2 linked regions of the Homo sapiens genome follow. The protein of the gene in region 2 purifies or fractionates together with the protein of the main gene of each other region. This does not show direct contact. Each region holds a gene or a part of one and is shown on either strand. Other genes may lie near its edges.

The links.
Region 1: the proteins of CYP11B2 (region 2) and TRIM2 purify together in Homo sapiens (affinity purification with western blotting; one study listed by BioGRID). This does not show direct contact.

The regions. Positions count from the first base shown.
Region 1 is NC_000004.12:153,207,192-153,211,013, reverse strand, and holds part of TRIM2 (tripartite motif-containing protein 2), read right to left. Parts: intron 1-3,822. UniProt on the Homo sapiens protein: UBE2D1-dependent E3 ubiquitin-protein ligase that mediates the ubiquitination of NEFL and of phosphorylated BCL2L11. Plays a neuroprotective function. May play a role in neuronal rapid ischemic tolerance.
Region 2 is NC_000008.11:142,912,452-142,915,165, forward strand, and holds part of CYP11B2 (cytochrome P450 11B2, mitochondrial precursor), read right to left. Parts: coding exon 2,595-2,714; intron 2,458-2,594; coding exon 2,254-2,457; intron 1,968-2,253; coding exon 1,813-1,967; intron 1,001-1,812; coding exon 834-1,000; intron 435-833; coding exon 356-434; intron 277-355; coding exon 79-276; intron 1-78. UniProt on the Homo sapiens protein: A cytochrome P450 monooxygenase that catalyzes the biosynthesis of aldosterone, the main mineralocorticoid in the human body responsible for salt and water homeostasis, thus involved in blood pressure regulation, arterial hypertension, and the development of heart failure.

The sequences.
Region 1 (3,822 bases), on a different chromosome or scaffold from region 2:
CCCCATCCCCTGTCTCCTCCCAGCCCTCCAGTGACAGCTCAGACAATGGTGCCCTGCATGTCTGGGTTTACTGCATGTGTTGAGTGTGGGAAGAGGGCTGCTTTTTTCAGATCTTGTCACTATCCTTCCTTGTCACAGTTCCAACACGGCTTCTGGGGCTTCTAGGGTCACTGCTGCCTTATGGGGTCTTTTCATTTTCTTTTTGTAATGGCCAGCATTAATATTTATGCTGTGCCTCCAGTATGTCCAGAACACACAGAGTGTCCAGGAAACACAAGAGCTAGCCTCACTGAAGTGTATTTAAAGGGGCCACATTTCTAAGAAATCACTGATTGCTGCTGTTTCGTTAAAAATGCTCTCAAGAAAATAGAATCATCCAGTGAAGAGCACAAATCAAGAATCAAATATTTTGAGAGCTCTAGTTCCTTCCTTTTGGTCCCCAGTGGAATAACCTGCATGTCAGTGAGCTATTAAAAGGATTTGGCTCCATTTGGCATTCCTGGAAATGCAATTATTGCCCAGTTGCCTGTGAAACATTTGGGGACCCATGAAAAAGATGGCCTTGCAGATTTCACAGGACTTTTGCTGCGAAAGAGACTCCTCAGCAACATTTTGCTTGATGTCCCTACATTTAAAATTAAGTCACCCAGCCCAGGCACGGTGGATCACACCCGAAATCCCATTACTTTGGGAGGTCAAGGCAGGCAGATCACCTGAGGTCAGGAGTTTGAGACCGGCCTGGCCAATGTGGCAAAACCCTGTCTCTCCTAAAAATACAAAAATTAGCCATGCGTGGTAGCAGGTGTCTGTAATCCCAGCTACTTGGGAGGCTGAGGCAGAAGAATCGCTTGAACCTGGGAGGTGAAAGTTGCAGTGAGCCGAGATCTCGCCACTGCTCTCCAGCCTGGGCAACAGAGTGAGACTCCATCTCAAAAAAAAAAAAAAAAAAAAAAAATTAAATCACCCAATGTGGCAACTAGGAATATCTTGGAAAACTATATGGATTTGAAAGTATCTTGAAAAGCACAAATGCTGTTTATGGTGCATGATTCTGAGATCAGGTTACAGCTTTAAAGTTCAGTTGAAACTCTATTTTATTCTCCTGCAAAGAGTGAGAGAAGTCATATGGAGGAAAAAACCCATCCTTGGAAGGTCTCTGGTGGGATATACTTAACTACTTACCATATCAAAGAACACACATTGAAAAGTGCCAGACCAGGTTTAGAGTGAGGCTTTGAGGGTACTACAGATTTAAATGTCTTCCTCCCACACACTAAGGAATAGATCTCATTTTTCAAGTTGGTAACGTTCGTGAAGTCAGACACTGACCCTTTGTCTCCCACGGTTTCTAGAGTCAACAGTTTGAGGAATTTCATTGAAGTTCTATTTGCATAACAGTTGCAAAATGTGAAGTGTACCATTCCCTCGGTTCCAACTTGTTAAGTACGGTACTTGAAGGCACAGGTGGACAGTGGGCAAATACACCTGGTAGTTAAAGACCTATATATCAGGAAATGCTCCCTTAAAAAGCTGAGCAGGACTGGAGGTGTGATAAGGGATCTTGTACCCAGCATGTGCCTTGAGGTGAGACTATGCATATCTAAACAACTCCCAGGGCCCCTCTAGGGAGTGCAATTCCAGTTGAGTTTTCTGATTCATCTTCCATCTTTTATGGGGGTGGGTCCCTTGAACATATCGGAGTGATAAAACAGCATGCTAATAAGTGTGGGAGGTGGTGTGAGTGTCCCTTGTTTGAAAATTTAAGTAGATTTAAAAATTCTCAAATGCAAGGGATTATGAATGTAAACCACATTGGTGTTCCATTACTCTAGTTAGGGAGGCATTGGGTGCACCAAGGTCACCAGGCTCCCTGCTCCTTACGTGCCTTCAGGGGCCTGTCCACCATTTTTCCTGATTCCGCTGTGTTAGATCTTTGGCTGCTGGACCTCAGTTTTCCCAGGGTTTTTCATAAAATGGGCCTGGTGAAGAAATGACTCCAGTCTTGTCAAATCTTAGGAAGAAGGAATTGATGCTGGATCTTCTGAACGAACACATTTCTTTGTGTGTGTGGATATGGTTCTCAGTACCCACCCACTGCTCCAGATGTGCTCCCAGCTCCAGACCTTGCCTTGCAGGCTCACACTTTTGTAATGTATGGAAATTGTAAATGTTCTCTGCTTGGAATCCTCTGGAGCATCATCTAGAAACCTCCATCGGGATGGATGCAGTGTTCCATCTGGGAGGGAAAAGGAACGACCCCATGCCAAGCACTATGGAGGGCAGTCTACATGTTCTAGCTTTCCATTCTCATCATAGCCCGATAAGGCAGACAATATCGTTCCCATTTTCAGGTGAGGAAAACAAGAACTGGAGAGGGTAAGTGACTTGCCCAAGGTCACTAGCAGTCAACCAGCAGACCTGAGACTCGAGTTCAGCTCTGTTTGACCTATGTTCTGGTCTTGACACATCTACGGGATATTATATTTTCCATACAATTTACTATGAAAATTTTAGATAGTGACAAATTTTACATAAATGAGTTTTAGATTTATTTATTGTTTATTAAATAATAAAATTATTTATTATAATTTTAGATAAAGATAAATTTATCTAAAATTGTGTAATTTCTTTGTGTAAGAAATTACACAAATTTCTTCTTGTGTAAAGTAACCAACTTGAATGTATCATTACCTCCTGTGAAAATAAAAAGTGTACTTTCCTTTTGAGACAAGGTCTTGCCCAGGCTGGAGTGGACTGGCACAATCATAGCTCACTGCAGCTTCCACCTCCCAGGCTCAAGTGATCCTACCGCCTCAGCCTCCTGAGTAGCTGAGACCACAGGTGTGTACCACCATGCCCAGCTAATTTTTATTTTTATTTTTTAGAGACAAAGTCTAACTATGTTGCCCAGGCTGGTCTTGAACTTTTGGCCTCAAGCGATCCTTCCACCTTGGCCTCCCAAAGTGCTGGCATTACAGGGTTCACCACTGCACCTGGCCAGAAGTGAACTTTTCAAACCACACACAAGACCCATCTATTATTCCTGGATGAGCCTTCAACATGGATAAGCATGATCAGCAAGGAGCTCAAGGGTGATTTCAAACCATGTTTAACTTACGGCTCATGAGTTCCTCCGGGGAGATTTCTGTCAGATCTAAAGTCATAGACAGAAGCTAGAATGGACTTTGAAGATCATGCCTCAGGACAGATAGAAAACCGTGACCCTGAGGGACTCCCTTTTCCAGAGCCACCTGCTGGCCAGTCCCGGATGGAGACCAGAACGCTGATGTCCAGCCCGCCCTTCTTTCCACTGCACTGCATTCTCTTAGCATTTCCTTTATCCAATGTCACCAGTAAATCAGAGAGACATTTGGTAAACTTAGATGGTATTTAGGACTGTCGTTAGATGCTGGTAGCAGTCATAATAAAATAATTAATATTCACTGAATATTTGCTGTGCACTGAGTGCTGTATAAGGAACTTTGATGCATGACCACATTTAAACCTCACAATCATCCAGTGAAACAGATTGTCATCCCATTATTTGGCTGAAGGAATACAGACTTAGGGAGATTTGGTAACTTGCCCAATAACATATAAGTAAAACAACGAAAGTGAGGCTGGACTCCAGGTTCGTCTGAATCAAAGCTCTTGCTCTTAACCCCTTGTTTTTAAACCCGTGTTCTTTGGCTTCTGCCTCTGTGTGTCGTCTGTCCCCCATCGGCCACCGCACCGCATAGGCCTACCAGTGTGGCTGGCCCTTCCTGGAATTTAGCGAATTTTACAGATAAGGGAACTGGGGCACAGAGAGGTTAGGGAACT
Region 2 (2,714 bases):
ACCATGCAAGCCCCGCCCCCAGTGTGCAGGTCCCGCCTCTGCTGCCCAGGTCCCGCCCCCGCCCCCAGGCCTGCTTACGTGGTGCAGCAGCAGCAGCATCTCTGCCTCTGCCAGGCGCCGCCCGAGGCACTGGCGCATGCCAAAGCCAAAGGGCACGTGGTGGAAGTTCCTGCCGGAGCCCCTGATGTCTAGCCAGCGCTGGGGATTATACCGCTCAGGCCTCGGGAACAAGGCGGCATTGCGACCCAGCGAGTAGAGGAAAACCTGTACCAATGTCTGCGGACGGTGCAGAGCAGGGATCAGGGAATGACTGGGGAGGGAGGTTCTCAGCTCGAGGGGTGTGGGGCTCACTCACCCCAGCTGGGATGTGGTAGTTCTGAAGCACCAAGTCTGAGCTCACCACTCGCTCCAAAAACAGACCCACAGGGTAGAGCCTGGAGGTGGGGGCATCCATAGAAAGGGTCCTCAGCTGGATGGGGCTTCCTGTGCTCTCTGCACCCTTCCTACCGAAGACCCCGCAGAGGTCCCAGATCCATGGGAAGCCCAGGTCGTAGGAAGTACTTCCTTGCACCTGCTGAGCCCAGCCAAACCTCCCCTAACTTGAGAAGCCCCAAGCGCAGAAGGACATGCCCCACGTTAATCCCCAGGGTGTTGAAGAGGGATTCCAGAGGAAGAAGAGCTCCCTGTCCTTGAGGGGGAGGAAGAGCAGGTGCAGGGGAATGGGCTGCTGGGTGACGCTGTTTATCAGCCCCAGATTCTGTCTGCCACCACCCAGTGGGGGCTGCTCTCCAGCAGGGGGCCAGGGCCACAGGGAGGCCTCAGCCAGCACCCACCGCAAGGTCTCCTTGAGGGCCGCCCGCAGCAAGGGCAGCTCGGTGGTTGCCTTCTGGGGATGTTCACTGATGCTGGCTGCGGCGGCCAGGCTCTCCTGGCGCAGGATCTGCTGCACGTCGGGGTTCCGAGCCAGCTCAAAGAGCGTCATCAGCAAGGGAAACGCTGTCTACAGAAGCCATGTCTGCAGGGTCAGACCTTGCACAGGAGGACTCAGCCCCCGGGACACCCCTCCCAGGACAACCTCCCTCTGAGGGGTGGAGACATCCATGCCCTGAGCAAAAACAGAGCCCTGGGACCCCGGATCTGAAACCTTGATGACCACTTGGGCCAGATTCCCTGACTTCTTCAGGGAAAGGTGACCCCCATCTCCACCAAGGCCCAGGTCCCCTGCAGCCTCTTCAGGGCGGGTTCTCACAGCCACCATTAGGGCAGGGGGCCACACCTCAGCATCATCCAGGGAGTTCTGGAGCCCCAGCTCCCTCTGCTTCCATTGAGTTCTCCCCACTGTGCACCCACAGGCCCCTCTGCACTGGCTGGAGCCTGTGCTGCTGTCTTCCCCACAACCCTGCCCTCCCATGCATCTACATTTCTGGCCCAAGGTGACCGGGCACACTGGGAAGGGTGCCCAGTGGAGTCCTCCAGCTGCCTCTCAACCCTCCTTCTCCTTGTACACCCAGAGCTTTCCAGTGGGGACAGAGCTGCTGTGTGTCCAGGGCCTCATCCAACTTTCTTCCAGCCTGGAGCATGGATCCCCACACAGGTAACTGCAAACTCAGTCTCATGTGAGGGGGAGCTCACATTTCCCCTCCCCTGCAAATCTCATCCCTTAACAAAGGAGGGGGAAGGCTGAGGGCAACAGAAATGTGGGGCCTGTAGCCTGGGGATGGGGAACGTGGGTGCCGTGTGGCATTGGCAGGCAGTGCCTGGGAGGCAGGCTTGGCATCACCCTCTCTGGGTGGGGCTGGTTGCTGGCCTGACCGTGTCCACGCTCCCTGCAGTGAGTTCCATAGAGTTGGCCTTGATGGCTTCTAGTGACAGTTCCGCCTTCAACAGGAGCTCCGCCACGATGCCTGTGTAGTGTTGAGGGCGGTTGAAGGCCAGTTCCTGGTAGATTTTCTGGATACAGTTGTCACCTGTCCAGGGAGCAGGGGACAGCCCTCAGATCTTGGTGCTGGGAAGCATCCTTCAGTGTCCTCCTCCTGCCCAGACTGCCCCGACACCCAAATCTCCCTGCTCTCATCCCAAATTCTCCGGATCAGCCCAGCCCAGCCCCAGCCTCGCACCAATCTCCCCGGCAGGAAGGTGAGGAATCCCCGACCCCTCCCTGTGGCCTCCATTCCCCACTGGGTGGTGGAGAAGGAGAAATTGGGCCCCCATGGTGTCCCTTCCCCATAGCACTGCCCGGGTCCCTGGCCTCACCGTACTGGAAGATGCAGTCCCAGGCCTCAAAGTGCTCCTTCCACACCTTGGGGCTGATCCAGCGAGACAGGCTCCTGGGCATGAACATGAGCTGGACGGTGGATTTGAACATGACCTCCAGGGCATGGAGGAAGTTCAGGCTGGCAGAACTGGGGCTGTGGCCAACCAGGCCCAGCCGCTCTCCAAAAAGAGCTAAGTTGCTGGCTGCGGGGAGGATGCACTGCTGAGCACAAGGCAGCCCCAGGCCTCCTGGCTGCCTCCCCACACTCCCTTCAGTCCTCCATCCCCATCCCTGGCCACTCCAGGGTCTCTGGGGCTGGACCTTCCCGCATGGCCCACACCTTCTATGGTGTAGTGGAAGATGCTGGGCTGGACGTCCAGGGTCAGGCTCCCCCGGGCGTTCTGCAGCACCTTCTTCTTCAGGGCCTGGGAGAAGTCCCTGGCCACTGCATCCACCATCG